Linked DNA regions of Homo sapiens: region 2 is linked to region 1. A link means that fine-mapping ties the variant in region 1 to the expression of a gene that starts in the linked region. Tissue or cell type: neutrophils. Region 1 holds a variant in brackets; the other region holds the start of a gene. All regions are shown on one strand. Distances are between the middles of the regions.

Evidence for each region. PIP is the estimated chance that this variant, and not a neighbour inherited with it, causes the effect.
Region 2: it holds the start of VIRMA, and the variant in region 1 is fine-mapped to the expression of VIRMA in neutrophils (BLUEPRINT, PIP 0.95).

What each region holds. Positions count from the first base shown.
Region 1 is chr8:94,516,110-94,524,217 of GRCh38, reverse strand. It overlaps VIRMA (vir like m6A methyltransferase associated), which reads left to right. Exons shown (of 24, transcript NM_015496.5): 9 at 4,742-5,233; 10 at 6,276-6,430. Among named protein-coding and RNA genes, the nearest start is that of VIRMA, 33 kb to the left of the region's middle. The variant T/A (reference allele first, on the strand shown) is at 3,266.
Region 2 is chr8:94,549,063-94,557,170 of GRCh38, reverse strand. It overlaps VIRMA (vir like m6A methyltransferase associated), which reads left to right and starts at 3,702. Exons shown (of 24, transcript NM_015496.5): 1 at 3,702-3,786. The coding sequence starts at 3,724. It overlaps VIRMA-DT (VIRMA divergent transcript), which reads right to left and starts at 3,458. Exons shown (of 2, transcript NR_183271.1): 1 at 3,264-3,458. RefSeq lists an enhancer at 3,389-4,008.

The DNA of each region.
Region 1 (8,108 bases):
AGACCAGCCTGACCAGCATGGAGAAACCCCATCTCTACTAAAAATACAAAATTAGTGGGGCATGGTGGCGCATGGGTGTAATCTCAGCTACTTGGGAGGCTGAGGCAGGAGAATTGCTTGAACCCGGGAGGCAGAGGTTGCAGTGAGCTGAGATCTCACCATTGCACTCCAGCCTAAGCAACAAGAGCGAAACTCCGTCTCAAAAAAATAAATAAACAAGTAACAAAAACACACACACACACAGACACACACAAAAACTAGCCGGGCTTTGGTGGAATGTGCCCGTAAACCCAGCTACTTGGGAGGCTGAGGCAGGAGAATCCTTTGAACCCGGGAGGTTGGAGGTTCTGGTGAGCCGAGATCGGGCCACTGCACTCCAGCCTGGGCAACAGAGTGAGATGCTATCTCAAAAAAAGAAAAACTAGCCAGGTGTGGTGGTGCATGCCTGTAATCCCAGCTAACTCGGGAGGCTGAGGCAGGAGAATCGCTTGAACCCAGGAGGCAGTGGTTGCAGTGAGCCGAGATCGTGCCACTGCACTCCTGCCTGGGCGACAAGAGCGAAACTCCGTCTCAAAAAAGAAATTTGGCCAGCCTGGGCAACATAGGGAGACCGCTACAGAAAATAAAAAATCAAAAAAAAAATAGCTGGGAATGGTAGTGTGCGCCTGTAGTCCCAGCTGCTCAGGAGGCTGAGGTGGGAGGATTGCTTGAGCCTGAGAGGTTAAGGGTGCAGTGAGCTGTGATTGTGCCACTGCACTCCAGTCTGGGCAGCAGAGTGAGACTGTGTCTCAAAACAAGAAATTTGGCTAAGAGAAAAAGTAAGAGACAAGGCAGCAGCTAGAAGGAGATGTTGGAGTCAAAAAGGAAGGTTTTTATTTTTTAGGAGTGGGAGAGGCTTGAGCATATTTGTAGGCTGGGAATAATGACTCATTTATAATAAAAAGTCAGTGGAGAGGGAGATGTTTATGATGTAGGAGTAAACAATAACAATTCCTGGGGCAAGGCTTGGTGGGAGATGAGGACAAGAGTACAAGTGTAGGAGTTTGGTTTTGGGCAGGAGAAAGGGAATCTTGTAAGTATGCAAATATAATACATTTGTAGTCTTGGAGATTGTAAAGAAATTTAAATACTTCTTACTAACAACTTTATTTTTAGTAGAATAGGTGATGTTTTCAGTCACTGAGAAGAAGCTAGTAATTAAATACTTACTGAGTGTTTTTTTCCCACCATATGGAGGAGGTATATTTGGGTATCAGACAAGAGGAAATAAAGGGCCCAGAATGGTTGTGCTAAGGAATTTGGATTTTATTTGTAGAATATGGAAAGGTATTGAATATTTTGGAGTAGCAGATCTGATATGATCAGAGTAATATTCTCAGATTTTGTGTTGCAAGATGTATTGCAATGGAAAAGAAATTAGAGTTACTAGGAAGATAAGATAGTCTGAGGTTTCTAGGTACTGGGTTTTAAGTACTTTGCCCTTAACAGGTAATGGAAAGGCAAATATTGTGCTTATAGTGACAGAGATTGTGAAATAGCCATTATATTATATAATAGTACTAGGACTTGGCAACAGGACCTAGTAGGCGAAGGGAAGTGAGAAGAAGCTAGAGATTTCTAGCCAGGGTAGCAATTGGAGCTGTGGTTTTATTGACAGAAACTGGTAAATTAGGAAGGAGAGTGAATTTTGAAAGGAAAAATAATTGTACTTTGGAGGGTTTGTTTTTGAAGTGGTGGCAAGGCTCTATTGTCCTATGTCAGGTTCCCCAAGAGCACCAAGATTCTCTAGGAGGACTCACAAAACTCAGCATATAATACTCAGCAAAGGAAAAAGGTACCTGGGAGGAAGTTGGGAAAACCAGTTGCAAGCTTCCAGAGTCCTCTCACAGTGGAGTCACATAGTGCCTGCCTAATTCTCACAGCAACAGGTTGTGACATGTGTGAAGTGTTGCCTGTTGAGGAAGCTCTTTAGAAACTCGGCACCCAGGCTTTTTTATTTTTTATTTTTAAATAGCAACAGTGACATGTTTTGATACATGTATACATTGTGGAATAATTATATCAAGCTAATTGGCATGCAAATTTTTTTATTGTGGGTAGTCATGTAGGCACTCACTGCCTATCTTATACCAGAATTCCAGACTCCTAGAAGGAAAGCAGGTGTTCAGCATAACCATATTGTTTGCACAAATAATTTAGGCACAAGGAACCATTCTTATCAGTTAGGGGTGCGGGAATCCTCTTGAAATCTAAGTTCCCAGAAGTTAGCCAGTAGCCAACCTTGCAAGCAGACCTCTAAGGATGTGCAGTCTGAGGCTTGCTATTTTAACCATTCTCTGAATGGTCCATAAGGGGGATGCTCTTGGAGCATAGTAATTCTGGAGTTTTGTCTTCTTGAAGGTTCTGTTTGCCTTTGTAGTAAGCAGTTACTGGTGGGTGTTTATTATTGTGAAGTAGAAGCCTGGGTTTAAATAGTAATAGGACTGAAGAAGCAGTTTCAGCTTTTGACAAAATTAAGTTCTGGCCTGTCATTTACTTTTTAGTAGTATTTTGATGGGTTTATGAAAGCTATTGTGTTACCATTTGCAGTGACTAAAATGGAAGAGAATGAGTCAGAATTATAAATAATTTTATTCTTTTTAACTTTCAGAAAATTATGATATTCTTAATAATTAAAAATTAAGAAGTTTTCATTAAGCTGGTTCTATCTTGTAGTCAAGAGATGTTTTGACAGATTTTTACCCCATTTTTGAGTATTTGAAAAAATACGATGTTTTGGTTCTTTTTTCTTTAAAATCTGGTTAAGTTTCATTTTTAAAAAGTTGAGGAATGAGATCATGTCCTTTGCAGGGACATAGATGAAGCTGGAAGCCATTATCCTCAGCAAACTAATGCAGGAACAGAAAACCAAATACTGCATGTTCTCACTTACAAGTGGGAGCTGAACGGTGAGAACACATGGACACAGAGAGGGCAGCAACACACACTGGGGCCTGTTGAAGGAGAACAGAGGGTTGGGGGAGAGCATCAGGAAAAATAGCTAATACATGTGGGCTTCATACCTAGGTGATGGGTTGATAGGTGCAGCAAACCACCATGGCACACGTTTACCTATGTAACAAGCCTGCACATTCTGCACATGTACTCCAGAACTAAAAAATTTAAAAAAAAAAAAGAGATAAAAAAGTAGATTTTGGAAAAGAGTTTAGGGAGAATGAGGCAAAAGGATCACTTGAGTCCAGAGAATTGCTTAAGACCAGGAGTT[T/A]GAGTCCAGCCTGGGCAACATAGCTAGATTTCGTCTCATAAAAGAGTGCTATGTGTGGTAATACTAACTGCTTAAATGTTAAAAATTGACAATTTGAAAGCTTTTTCCCTAGAGATACTAATTCAGTCTACTGTAGTAAATCTGAGTATACTATATTTTTCTATAGTACAGTCATCCCTCACTGTCTGCAAAATTGGTTCTCAGACCTCCCTTGGATTCCAAAATCCAAGGATGCTCCAGTCTCTGATATAAAATATAAAATGATGTAGTATTTGCATATAACCTATGCATATCCTCTTGTATACTTGAAGTCATGTCTAGATTACTTATAATACATAGTACAATATAAATGCTCTGTAAATAGTTGTTATACTATTATTGTGTAGGGAATGATGTAAGAAAAAAGTCTGTACATGGTCAGTACAGATACATTCTTTTCTGTCTTTTTTTTTTGAGACAGAGTCTTGCTCTTTCACCTAGCCCAGGCTGGAGTGCGGTGGCATGATCTTGGCTTTCTGCAGCCTCAACCTCCTGGGCTTAAGCGATCCTCCCACCTCAGCCTCCCAAGTAGCTGGGACTACAGGCATGGGCCACCATGGCCAGCTAATTAAAAAATTTTTTTAGAGACAGGGTCTCACTATATTGCTCAAGGCTGGTGTGAAATTACTGCGCTCAAGTGATCCTCCAGCCTCAGCCTCCCAGAGTGCTGGGATTACAGGTGTGAGCCACCACAGCCAGCCCAGGCTTTTTTTTTTTTTTTTTTTTTTGATGCAGGGTCTCACTCAGGTTGGAGTGCAGTGGAGCAATCATGGCTCACCGCAGCATTGACCTCCCTGGGCTCAGCCTCTTCAGTAGCTGAGACTACAGACATGCGCCACCACGCCTGGCTAATTTTTGTATTTTTTGTAGAGACAGGTTTTTGCCATGTTGCCCAGGCTGGTCTTGAGCTCCTGGCCTAAAGTGATCTGCCTGCCTCGGCCTCCCAAAGTGCTTGGGATTGTAAGTGTGACCAACTGCACCTGGCATCAGATGCACTTTTAAAAAATATTTTCGATTTGCAGTTGGCTTAATCCACAAATGCAGATGCGGAGTGCTGACTGTATATACTATATTTTTCCTAGATACATGAATTTAAATATACCAATATGCCATGAATAAAGTAGGACCATGGTGAAAAAGGAGCATTTGATAAGTGTCCTGGAAAGAAGGCCCAAAATTTAAAGAAAAGCTTGTCAATAATTATTTATTTAACATCTGTTGAGTGCTAACTAGGACAAAGCCTCACAGAACATTCACTCTTATTTGGCCTCATCTAGAGAAGACTTGCCACTCACATTATGTTTTCAGTTAAAGCAGTATATTACTGAGGATAAGGATTATGGTCATTAAAAATTTTTATCAGTGTCTTGTCTGAATATTGAGTAAATGAAGAATGCTTTGCACTGACTTGACATGTATCAATTAACTCTTCCACAGATATCTTCACAGTCATCACTTCTTGGAGTTGGTTACCTTGCTTCTGTCAATTCCAGTAACAAGTGCTCACCCTGGTGTGCTGCAAGCCACAAAAGATGTTTTGAAGTTTCTTGCACAGTCACAGAAGGGTCTTCTTTTTTTTATGTCGGAATATGAAGCAACAAATTTATTGATCCGAGCTCTGTGTCACTTTTATGATCAAGATGAGGAGGAAGGTCTCCAATCTGATGGTGTTATTGATGATGCATTTGCCTTGTGGCTACAGGACTCAACACAGACATTGCAATGTATTACAGAACTGTTCAGCCATTTTCAGCGTTGTACAGCCAGTGAAGAAACAGACCATTCAGATCTCTTGGGAACCCTGCACAATCTTTATTTGATTACTTTTAATCCTGTGGGAAGATCAGCTGTTGGCCATGTTTTTAGTCTGGAGAAAAATCTCCAAAGTCTTATTACTCTAATGGAGTACTATTCCAAAGAAGCCTTGGGGTAATTTCCTACTTACTCCTTAAATTTTCTATGATGTTAGAAAATCAGATTAACTAATGGTCTAGTTTCTTAAAAGAAGGTGTTATTTTGAGAGGGAAAAACTATAGTTTTGATATAACACAAAACTTGTTAATTAAAGGTTAGAGTGACAGAAATCTCTAAAATATAAGATGTGGCTATAAAGTAATACAGTGGACTCTTTAGCACCTTCCTTCAGTTAACCCATGGTGTTAAAGATTGCAACTGTAGTACCCCCTGCTGTTTTATGCAGAGGGGAATTCTAAGGCACAGGAATACGTACCTTAAGGTATATATTCCTTTTATTCCTCTTACACTTTCTTGCTGGCTCCTGCCCTTGCATTCTAAACCATGCTCTGGATTCAGAATTGCTTTGACTAGATGGGTAAATTGAGAATGATAATGGTTTGAAGAGCCTTCTTGGTAAGGCAGAGGGTTTTATTATATGAGAAGAAAGACATGCCTTATTTCTGGTTCATGTCACACAAGGCAAATGGCATCCAGATAACTGCCCTCACTATGAGGACTGGGTGTATAACTCCTTGAGTGACAGATCTTTTGTGGGGTGCTTATGAAAAGCAAACAGCAATGACTTTCATGCCTAGCTGTATCTTAACAGGTTTATAGTGGAATACTGAGTGTTGAAGGCAGGTGATCATACTCGTTCCTATTTATCCAGATTGGACAAATATTTTGAAGGAGACTAATGAAGTATACTTCCTAACCTTTCATTACTAATGAAGTATACTTGTTAATATTTCATTGTTTTTCTGATCTTATTTCTTAATAGAATTTTACTTTCCATGGTGATATGTATGCTTTTTTATATACTTTTAAGTAAAGTAATGGTTTCAGGTGAATTGGATATGAACTGTAAAATCTGATTTCTTGTCTTCAGACAGTTAGTCATGTTTTATTGTAAATGTCCTTGATCTCTTTAAAGCCAAGTAGAAGAAAATTTTTAAAAATTGTTCCTAAAAAATTGTTTTTGTATCCAAAACTTAAAAACCTTATTTTGTTTCAGTGATTCCAAATCTAAGAAGTCAGTAGCTTATAATTACGCATGCATACTTATTTTGGTGGTGGTTCAGTCTTCCAGTGATGTTCAAATGCTAGAACAACATGCAGCATCTCTCTTGAAGCTTTGTAAAGCAGATGAAAATAATGCTAAATTGCAAGGTATGGTACTTAAAGTTATTTTAAGCATTTGTAATATGTGAAGGAACAAACCTTTGAATATCTGTAATTAGTCCTTCATCATGTTTCGATAATATACCTAGTAATACTGTTTTTAACTTCCTGAAATTACTTTTTATGAAGACAGTTTATAAAAACTAAAGGTTGATAAAATGTTTTAGTATATAAACAAAATAGTTTTTACAAGTACCTTTTCTGGAAAGTCATGAAAATTGGTGGTTTGTTGAAATTTCTAATCAAAATGGAAGAGTTTAAAGACAAACTCAAGGCCGGGTGCGGTGGCTCATGCCTGTAATCCCAGCACTTTGGGAGGCCAAGGCGGGTGGATCACCTGAGGTCAGGAGTTCAAGACCAGCGTGACCAACAAGGTGAAACTCCATCTCTACTAATAATACAAAAATTAGCTGGGCGTGCTGGCACACGCCTGTGGTTCCAGCTACTCGGGAGGCTGAGGCAAGAGAATTGCTTGAACCTGGGAGGTGGAGGTTGCACTGAGCCAAGATTGCACCACTGTGCTCCAGCCTGGGCAACAGAGCAAGACTCCATCTCAAAAAAAAGACTCAAAAGTTTAGTTTTGGGTATAGTTTTCCTTTGTGTGTTTTGCTGTGTATGTATTTCTACATAAAACACAAACTACAACTTAGAAATCTAGTTGTGGAGTAACACATTTGTGCTATCCTCAAAAGTAAATAATAGTAAATATGAATATTATTTTTTAAAGTATATAAATGTGTATCGAATGACATTTATGGGAAACCTTATGTGGGCAGCCTTGACAAGTTTAATATACCTAATCATAAGTTTTAAATTATTTTATTTTGGTTCCTCGTTTTCTGACCTTATCAAGTAGAAAATTTGATAACGTTGAGTAAATATTGTAAAAATGCTTTAAAATAGCATGTGGCCTCTTCTTTTCTTTTTAATCCTAAATTTTACTTGTGATAGCTCCAGTAAAAGTTGGGTAGTAAACTCAACTTCCCATTCTGGGAATAGATTTTTTTCCTGAAGAATGCGTTTATAAAAGGAGGGCACACAGTGTCTTCAAAGGTATTATTAGTGCTTTAGTACTTTTTCTGGGTGTTGGGTATTCTGGTATTTGTTTTATTATTATTTCTTATATCTTTGAGCTATATATTCTATATATAAGAAAGATTTAATTTTAAAATGCATGGGGAAAATTGTACAGCTGTAATTCTGGTGGAGGAGTGTAGAACCAAGGAAAGACCTGGCTACTATTTTCTATTTCCTATATGGCATCTGGAACTGGTATTTCACTTTTTACATTGGAGTGCTTTTCTAGAAACATTTTTGGTGATAGAATATAGGAGTTATGGTATAGCTTCTGGGAGAGTTTTGAGTTTGTTTGCAGTAAATGGCAGATTGTATTTGTGTTTATTCTATAAACAAAGTTTGCTGTCATTCTTTTGGGGTGATAGTAATTTTATAAAGGCAAATTTGGAAGTTGACAGAATTAAAATTTCATGTTAGAGGAAAAGGCACTCAGCAAAATATCTCCCCTTGGGTTTCATTCCTTTAGAAATTAATAAATTTTGTTTATACTTTTTTTGGGTGGGTGTGAGAGGCAGTGGCAGAGATAGGTGAATAAACACTATGTTACATTAATTTATAAGCAGTCTATTTTGTAGGTATGTACATTTTT
Region 2 (8,108 bases), 33 kb before region 1:
AGGACACCCTATTCAACAAATGGTGCTGGGATGATTCGCAAGCCACATGTAGAAGAAGGAAACTGGATCCCCATCTGTGCCTGATACAAAAATCAACTCACAATGGATCAAAGACTTAAATCTGAGACCTGAAACTAAAAATTCTAGACGATAACATAGGAAAAATTCTTGTACACACTGGCTTAGGCAAAGAGTTCATGACCAATAATCCAAAAGCAAATACAACAAAAACAAAGGTAAATAGATGGGACCTAATTAAATTAAAAAGCTTCTGCACAGCAAAAGAAATAATCAGCAGAGTAAACAGACAATCCATTGAGTGGGAGAAAAATCTTCACAAACTACGTATCCAACAAAGGGCTAATATCCAGAATCTACAAATAACTCAAACAAATCAGCAAGAAAAAAATAAATTATCCCATCAAAAAGTGGGCAAAGGACATGAATAGACAATTCTTAAAAGAAAATATACAAATTCACCGGACACAGTGGCTCACGCCTATAATCCCAGCACTTTGGGAGGCCGAGGCGAGCATTGTCTGAGGCCAGGAGTTCAAGACTAGCCTGGCTAACATGGTGAAACCCCATCTCTACTAAAAATACAAAAATTAGCTGGGGGTGGTGGTGCACGCCTGCAGTCCCAGCTACTCAGGAGGCTGAGGCAGGAAAATTGCTTCAACCAGGGAGGCAGAGGGTGCAGTCAGCCAAGATCGAGTCATTGCACTCCAGCCTGCGCAACAGAGCAAGACTCCGTCTCAAAAACCAAAACAAAACAACAACAACAAATATATATATATATATATATAAATTGCCAATAAAGAAATGAAAAAATGCTCAACATCATTAATTATCAGGGAAATGCCAATCAAAACCACAATGAGATACCACCTTACTCCTGCAAGAATGGCCATAATTAAAAAATAAAAAAAAACAGATGTTGGCATGGATGTGGTGAAAGGGGAACACTTTTACACTGCTGGTGGGAATGTAAACCAGTACAACCACTATGGAAAACAGTATGTAGATTCCTTAAAGAACTAATAGTAGAACTACCATTTGATCCAATAATCCCACTACTGGGTATCTACTCAAAGGAAAAGAAGTCATTATATGAAAAAGACACTTGCACACACGTTTATAGCAGCACAGCTCACAGTTGCCAAAATACAGAACCAGCCTAAATGCCCATCGACCAACGAGTGGATAAAGAAAATGTGGTGTATATACATATATATACATATGGGAATACTACATATATATATATATATATATATATATATATATATATATATATATATATGGGAATATATATGGGAATACTACTAACTCAACCACAAAAAGGAACAAAATAATGGCATTTGCAGCAACCTGGATGGAGCTGGAGACCATCATTCTAAGTGAAGCAACTCAGGAATGGAAAACAAAACATGGCATGTTCTCACTATTAAGCAGGAGCTAAGCTATGAGGATGCAAACTCCTAAGAATTATATAATGGACTTTGGGGACTGGCGGCGGGGAAGGGTGGGCGAGGGAGTGAGGGATAAAAGACTACATACACATTGGATACAGTATACACTGCTCAGGTGATGGGTGCACCAAAACCTCAGAGATCACCACTAAAGAACTTTTCCATGCAACCAAACATCACCTGTTCCCTCAAAACTGTTGAAATAAAAATAAAAATGTAAAAAAAAAAAGGATATCAATGCTAAGAAAATCAGACTGTAAAAATGACAACTATAAAAGCACTATATAGTACATTGGTTAAGGGAGAGCTTAGGGGAAAATTTATATAAATACATATAGTAATAAATAAGAAATATGAATAAAAATAAACATCAGTGGTAGAAATTAGAGAACAGCATATAAGCCTAAACACAGAAGAAGGGGGGGGGCACGGTGGCTCACGCCTATAATCACAGCACTTTGGGAGGCTGAGGCAGGAGGATTGCTTGAAGCCAAGAGTTTGAGACCAGGCTGGGCAACGAAGCAAGACCCTGTTTCTAAAAAAAAAAAGAGGCAAGAATCAGAAAACAGAAAAATATTAAAAGCAATAAATATCAATGCAAGAACAAATAATAAAAGATAAACTATAGCTAGCTAATAGAGGAAACTGGATGGCTGAGGAAGGATGTGGAGAGGAGATTTACTTTAGAAATTCATTTATTATTAAATATTTCAGACATACCAGAAGGTACAAACAATAATATAAGGCATGCTTGTGAAATTAACATTAACCTAAATAACAAAACATTACCAAGGCATGTGAAGCCTTTCTGTTCTTCTCCATTACATCTCCTTCCAGTTTACCACTATCTTGAAATTTTAGTTACTCCAATACATGACTTTATAATTTCATGACATATGTACACTCCTAAAATTTTATATTCTTTTGCACGTTTTTAAATATATAGATGTTATTTTACACTATATATTTTTTATTTCCTTTTCTAAGAGATGGGTGTCCCCACTGGCCTCCAACTCCTGGGCTTAAGAGATTCTCCTGTCTCAGCTTCCCGAGAAGTTGGGACCACAGGAACACGCCACCGCACCCGGCTTGCGATGAGAGGAGTTAAACTTGTTTTGTTTTGGTTTGTGTCTTTTTTTTTTCTTTTTGTGAATAACGGGGTCTCGCTATATTGCCCAGGCAGTTCTCCAACTCCTGGGCTCAAGCGATCCTCCCGCTTCATCCTCCCTAAGTGCTGGATTACAGGCGTGAGCCAAAGCGCCCACCAACCCTGTTTTTTGGGTTTTTCATGCTAGTAAACATAGCACTGGTTCATTCTTCGTACCTGCTATATACTATTATATAAATACGCCACTATTTACTTATTACTTCTGTCAATGGCACTTATGTTTCCTGCTCTTTTGCAACTTATAAAGTTTGCTATGAATATTCTTGTATTTGTAGATACGTGGGCGAGAATTTTCCTAGAAGAGTGGTAGGCACGTGTAATTTTACAAGCTATTTCCTAGTTGCTCTGCTAAGGGTTTGTGCCATTTAGACTACCAAACCCGCTGAGTTTATCTCGTTGCTCCAAAGCTCATCAACACCCGACAGAGAGGCTTACTTTTCATTCTGCCTCCTGTTTTATTGTTCATGGTACTTCACGTTACACAATTCCTCGAATTTTATTTCAATTACTCCTCACAATCACCCTGTAGGTTAGGTACGATTTTTCACATTTTACAGATAAGAAAACAAAGAATCTCTTCGTTGGTTGAAACAACAGTTTTTCTTCTATTTAAATCAATGTCTTACTTTTCAACCTCGCTCACTGTTATCTTTTTGCTCCCAGCGCTGGAAAAAGTGGGACATCCCCTTCGGTGGGTGTACGGGGTTGGTATCCAAAGTTGGCAGCTTTCCCTCCCCCTCCTCCATCCACCGTCTCCAAAACCCCGTCTCCGCACTTCGCCACCCGGAGACCGCTGTAGCTCTGTAACGCGGAGGAACGACAGGGTTTGAACCACTGGAGACCCCGTAGTCCCCATCTCACTTCCCTCTGCCCCCCCTCTGCGTTCTAGGGGGCGCCCTCCGCCGCGCTGGAAAAGGCGGGGCCGGCAACTCCGGGCAACAAGATGCGTTGGGATAGGCCGAGGTTTGCGGCGCTAGTGCTCTGGTCACCGGAAGTCCCTCTGTTTCTCCCTCTCCTGAGTCGCTGTCGCGGAGGCTGGAGCGCTGCCCCGGAAGTCCTCCCCCCTGTTCCCCGCCCGCGGCAAACATGGCGGTGGACTCGGCGATGGAGCTGTTATTTTTAGATACTTTTAAACACCCGAGCGCTGAGGTAAGGCTTGGCGACTTGATTCTGACGCTGCTTCTTGACTTGGGATCTTTACAAAAAAACCGTTAGGCGTTCTCCACTTTTCCTTCTGCAGATTGCTTCTTTAATTTCTCGCTTACACACAGACACCCTCCCCCGAGCTGTGTGAGCATCGCGTCTGAGGGAGGGCTGCAGCAGCCCCTTCATTTCCTTGCTTTAACTTGGGCCCTCCGTGTCTTTGGTCGAGTTGGCTTTTCTGCTTGCATGGCTTTATTTTTTATTTTTCCTGTCAGGTTTGGGCCTTGAGAAGGATCAGGGTTCTCAGGTTTACCTCAGATGGCGTTTGGGAGGGGTCTTGGTTTGCCAGTAGTGTTTGACAGTAGTGCCGGAGTCTGAGCAGTTTACGTTGGCTTCGTGGTTTCCGAATCACGATGTTTCTAAATCCTTTCTCTTTGGCCTCTTTTCTGTCGGGAATTATGTTCCCCAGTTGTGACACTTACTTGGTTTAGGATTACGGTGCTCTCCGATTTGGCCTGAAACTTTAATACTTGTCTCTCGGAGAGATTTCACACATTAGGAATGAGATGCATTCACGGAGAATACTTGCGAAGAGGGGAGAGTTGAGAGAATTATAGTTAAACTCATCAGCAGACATCTCCTTTGAGGTTGGAGGTGGAATGTTGTGGAGTAATATTTCTGTACAAAACTACTTGAGCGCCCCTTAATGTACAATTGGCCCTGCAATATGTAGATTAAACATAGCTGGTTAACTAAAGATTCCTGAAAGCAGACCAAAAATGAACTTGAATGAAGTCTACGGAGAAATTGTTAAAAAAAAAAACGAACTTCACATTTTTCTGTCTTAATGTAAGCTTAATTTAGAGAACTGTTCTTTCTTTGGAGATTATTTTTTTCCTTTTATTTTTATCAAGTGTGCTCTTGTATCAAGCTTTTTGAGGACAGATATAATTTCTCTTTTTCTCAGCTGTATCTCCAGTGCCTAGGACAGTATTAGCAAAATGTAGGTGCTCAATAAATATTTGAATGGAAAATGTTTAAAATGTTCTTTCTTTTATGAGATAGTAATGATAGTGGGTAGTGATTGTATCATAATGCTTTACTTGGCAAAATAAAAAGTTGACAGCTGTGATCTAATTTAACGAATGGTTTATAGGTTTGTAAAAGTCAAAAGTTGGAGAACTTTGAGTTAGCATTTCTTACTGACAGTTAATTTATGGTCTGACATTTAATGTGGGTCAGTTAGCACTGTTTGTTCAATGACTATATCTAACATTCTAGCCGAGATTTAGAAAACCCTCAATGGAGGCAGTAGTTGGATCAGAACAAACTTATGGTGTATAGAAATAGAGAACAGTTAAAACTGAAAGAGCCTGGCGCAGTGGCTCATGCCTGTAATCTCAACGTTTTGGGAGGCGGAAGCAGAAGGATTGCTTGAGTCCAGGAGTTTGAGACCATCCTAGGCAACACAGTGCAACCCCTGTCTCTACAAAAGAAAATTAACTAGTTGTGGTGGTTTGATCTTGTTGCCCCAGCTACTCGGGAGGCTGAAGTGGAAGGATCATTTGATCCTGGGAGTTCAAGGCTGCAGTGAGCTAAGATCACACCACTGTGCTCCAGCCTGAGCAACAGAGTGAGACCCTGTCTCGAAAGGAAGAAAGAGAAAAAGGAAAAAGAGAAAGAGGCATGTGATGAATTAGTTTAGTACTATTCTAGTTTAGGAAAATTGGCCTTCATTAGTTTATCATGTATTTCTATTCTTTTATTCATTCTTAGGTAAACATTGAATACCTTGAGAGCATAGGGCAGATGGTAAATGCTTTCTTCTGGGGTGATTGGGGAAGGCTTAGCAGAGATCACATTTAAATCAAGTCTTGAAGGAGGAAGTAGGGGTTTGTGGGTGATACGAAATATTGAAATGTTTGTTTTCAAGAAGTTATAACTCAGTATTGGAGATTAGATTCACAAAATTGTGATTTGAGTTAGAATGTGATGATCACATAAAGAAGCACAGTGTGAATTCGTTGGGGTTTATCATCTTAGTTTACAAAATGCCCATCAGTATCTGACGTATTAGAACTAGCTCCCTTTGTGGGTATAAATAAAAGATACAAGATTTCAGAAGAGGCAGAGATAACTTTTCATTTGAGTGTATCAGGAAAGACTTCATCAAGGTGTTTGGCTTATGAACTTGGTCTTTGGTGAAAGGGGCAATATTTCACAGTTGTAGTTAGGAAAGGAGGGCATTCTACTGGGGTAGTCAGTCGTCTGTTAGGGTATGCTTGAAGTAGCAGTGTGAAGTGGCACCCAAGGCAATTCAAAGACAGATCATGGAGCTCCTTGAATGCTCGACAAAGAATTACAGACTTTAGGCCAGGCGCAGTGGCTCACGCCTGTAATCCCGGCACTTTGGTGAGGCTGAGGTGGGTGGATTGCCTGACGTCAGGAGTTCGACACCAGCCTGGGTAACACAGTGAAACCCCGTCTCTACTAAAATACAAAAAATTAGCTGGGCGTGGCGGTGTGCGTCTATAGTCCCAGCTACTCGGAAGGCTGAGGCAGGAGAATTGCTAGCACCCGGGAGGAGGAGGTTGCTGTGAGCCAAGATCACGCCACTGCACTCCAGCCTGTGCGACAGAGCAAGACTCTGTCTTTTAAAATAAATAAATACATAAATAAATAAAAATTATGGACTTTATTTTGTAGGAAATGGGTAGTTTTTGAGCAGGCGAATCATACAATTAGTAAGATACATTAGATAGATTACTTGATCAATAATACTTAAAATGGTTCAGAGAAGGCCAGGCGCCGTGGCTCATGCCTGTAATCCCAGCACTTTGGGAGGCCGAGGCAAGCGGATCACGAGGTCAGGAGATCGAGACCATCCTGGCTAACATGGTGAAACCCTGTCTCTACTAAAAATACAAACAAATAGCCGAGCGTGGTGGCAGGTGCCTGTAGTCCCAGCTACTCAGGAGGCTGAGGCCGGAGAATGGCGTGAACCCGGGAGGCAGAGCTTGCAGTGAGCCGAGATTGTGCCACTGCACTCCAGCCTGGGTGACAGAGCGAGACTCCGTCTCAAAAAGAAAAAAAAAAAAAATGGTTCAGAGAAAATAGAGGTGAGGTGACAAAATCAGAGAGAAAAAGTGAGATGTTATGAAAACCTGAGTTAGCCAATGGGCAGTAAGCATTGTTTAACATTTATTGAATGCTTAATTTGTGCCAGACACAGTGGGCTTTGATAACTTAAGTAAATCATCTCTGGTCCTTCCATCAGTTTTTTTTTTTTTTTTTAAGACTAGGTCTTGCTCTGTCACCCAAGCTGGAGTGCACTGGTGCGATCACAGCTCACTGCAATTTCTCCCACCAGGGCTCAATCGATCCTTCCATCTCAGCCTCCCGAGTAGCTGGGACTACAGTTGTGCACCAACACGCCTGGCTGATTTTCATATTTTTTTGTAGAGACGGTGTTTTGCCATGTTTCCCAGGCTGGTCTTGAATTCCTGAGCTCAAGCGATTCTCCCACCTCAGCCTCCCAAAGTGCGAAGATTACAGGCGTGAGCCACTGCAGGGCCCACGCTGAGTTTTCAAAGGTAGTCATCTACATTTTATAGATAAGGAAACTGAGCCTGAGAGATGAGGTGACTTTCCTAAAATAGCATAGCTAGATTAAGATCCACCATCATACATTTTTCTGGCTCTAAGGCAGTGCTATGCTGTGTCCCAGTGGAACTACGTAGGAGAGGATTTATACAAGTTTTGGATATGTACAAATTTCGAGTATAGAATTGACAGGATGGCAACTGATTATGTGAAGGAGATAGGGTAGTTAAAAATGGTAAAATTCTAGTTTTAGAGACAGGAGAACTAGTGGGACTAATGATGGTAAGAGTGTGGAAGTGAGTTTGATGGGAACGGGATAATTAGCCAGATTAATTTGCCCCATAGGAAGTTGAGAATCTGTTTAACAATTATTTATGAAAAACACTTTTGAAGGTGAGGGTATGGCTTTAGGAGGGGCAATACAAGTCAGAACAAAGCCCATTGCCCTTGATTTCAAAGGAATTTGTAATATGGTAGAGAAGAGACATTTATTAGTTTCACACAGGGAATCTTTATTGCCAGCTGCCATTAACAGCTCTTTTTTTGGTATTGTATTTGTTTTACCAATAATTTCCTCTTCTCCACATAAACAATTGATACACATTTATAAGGCCAATCCACTGAGTTCAGAAGATAAGCAGTTAAACTTATTAAAAGACAATTTGATTGTGAGGGAATAGTGTTCCCGTGAATGAAAAAACACTTAACATTACAAATCAAGAATG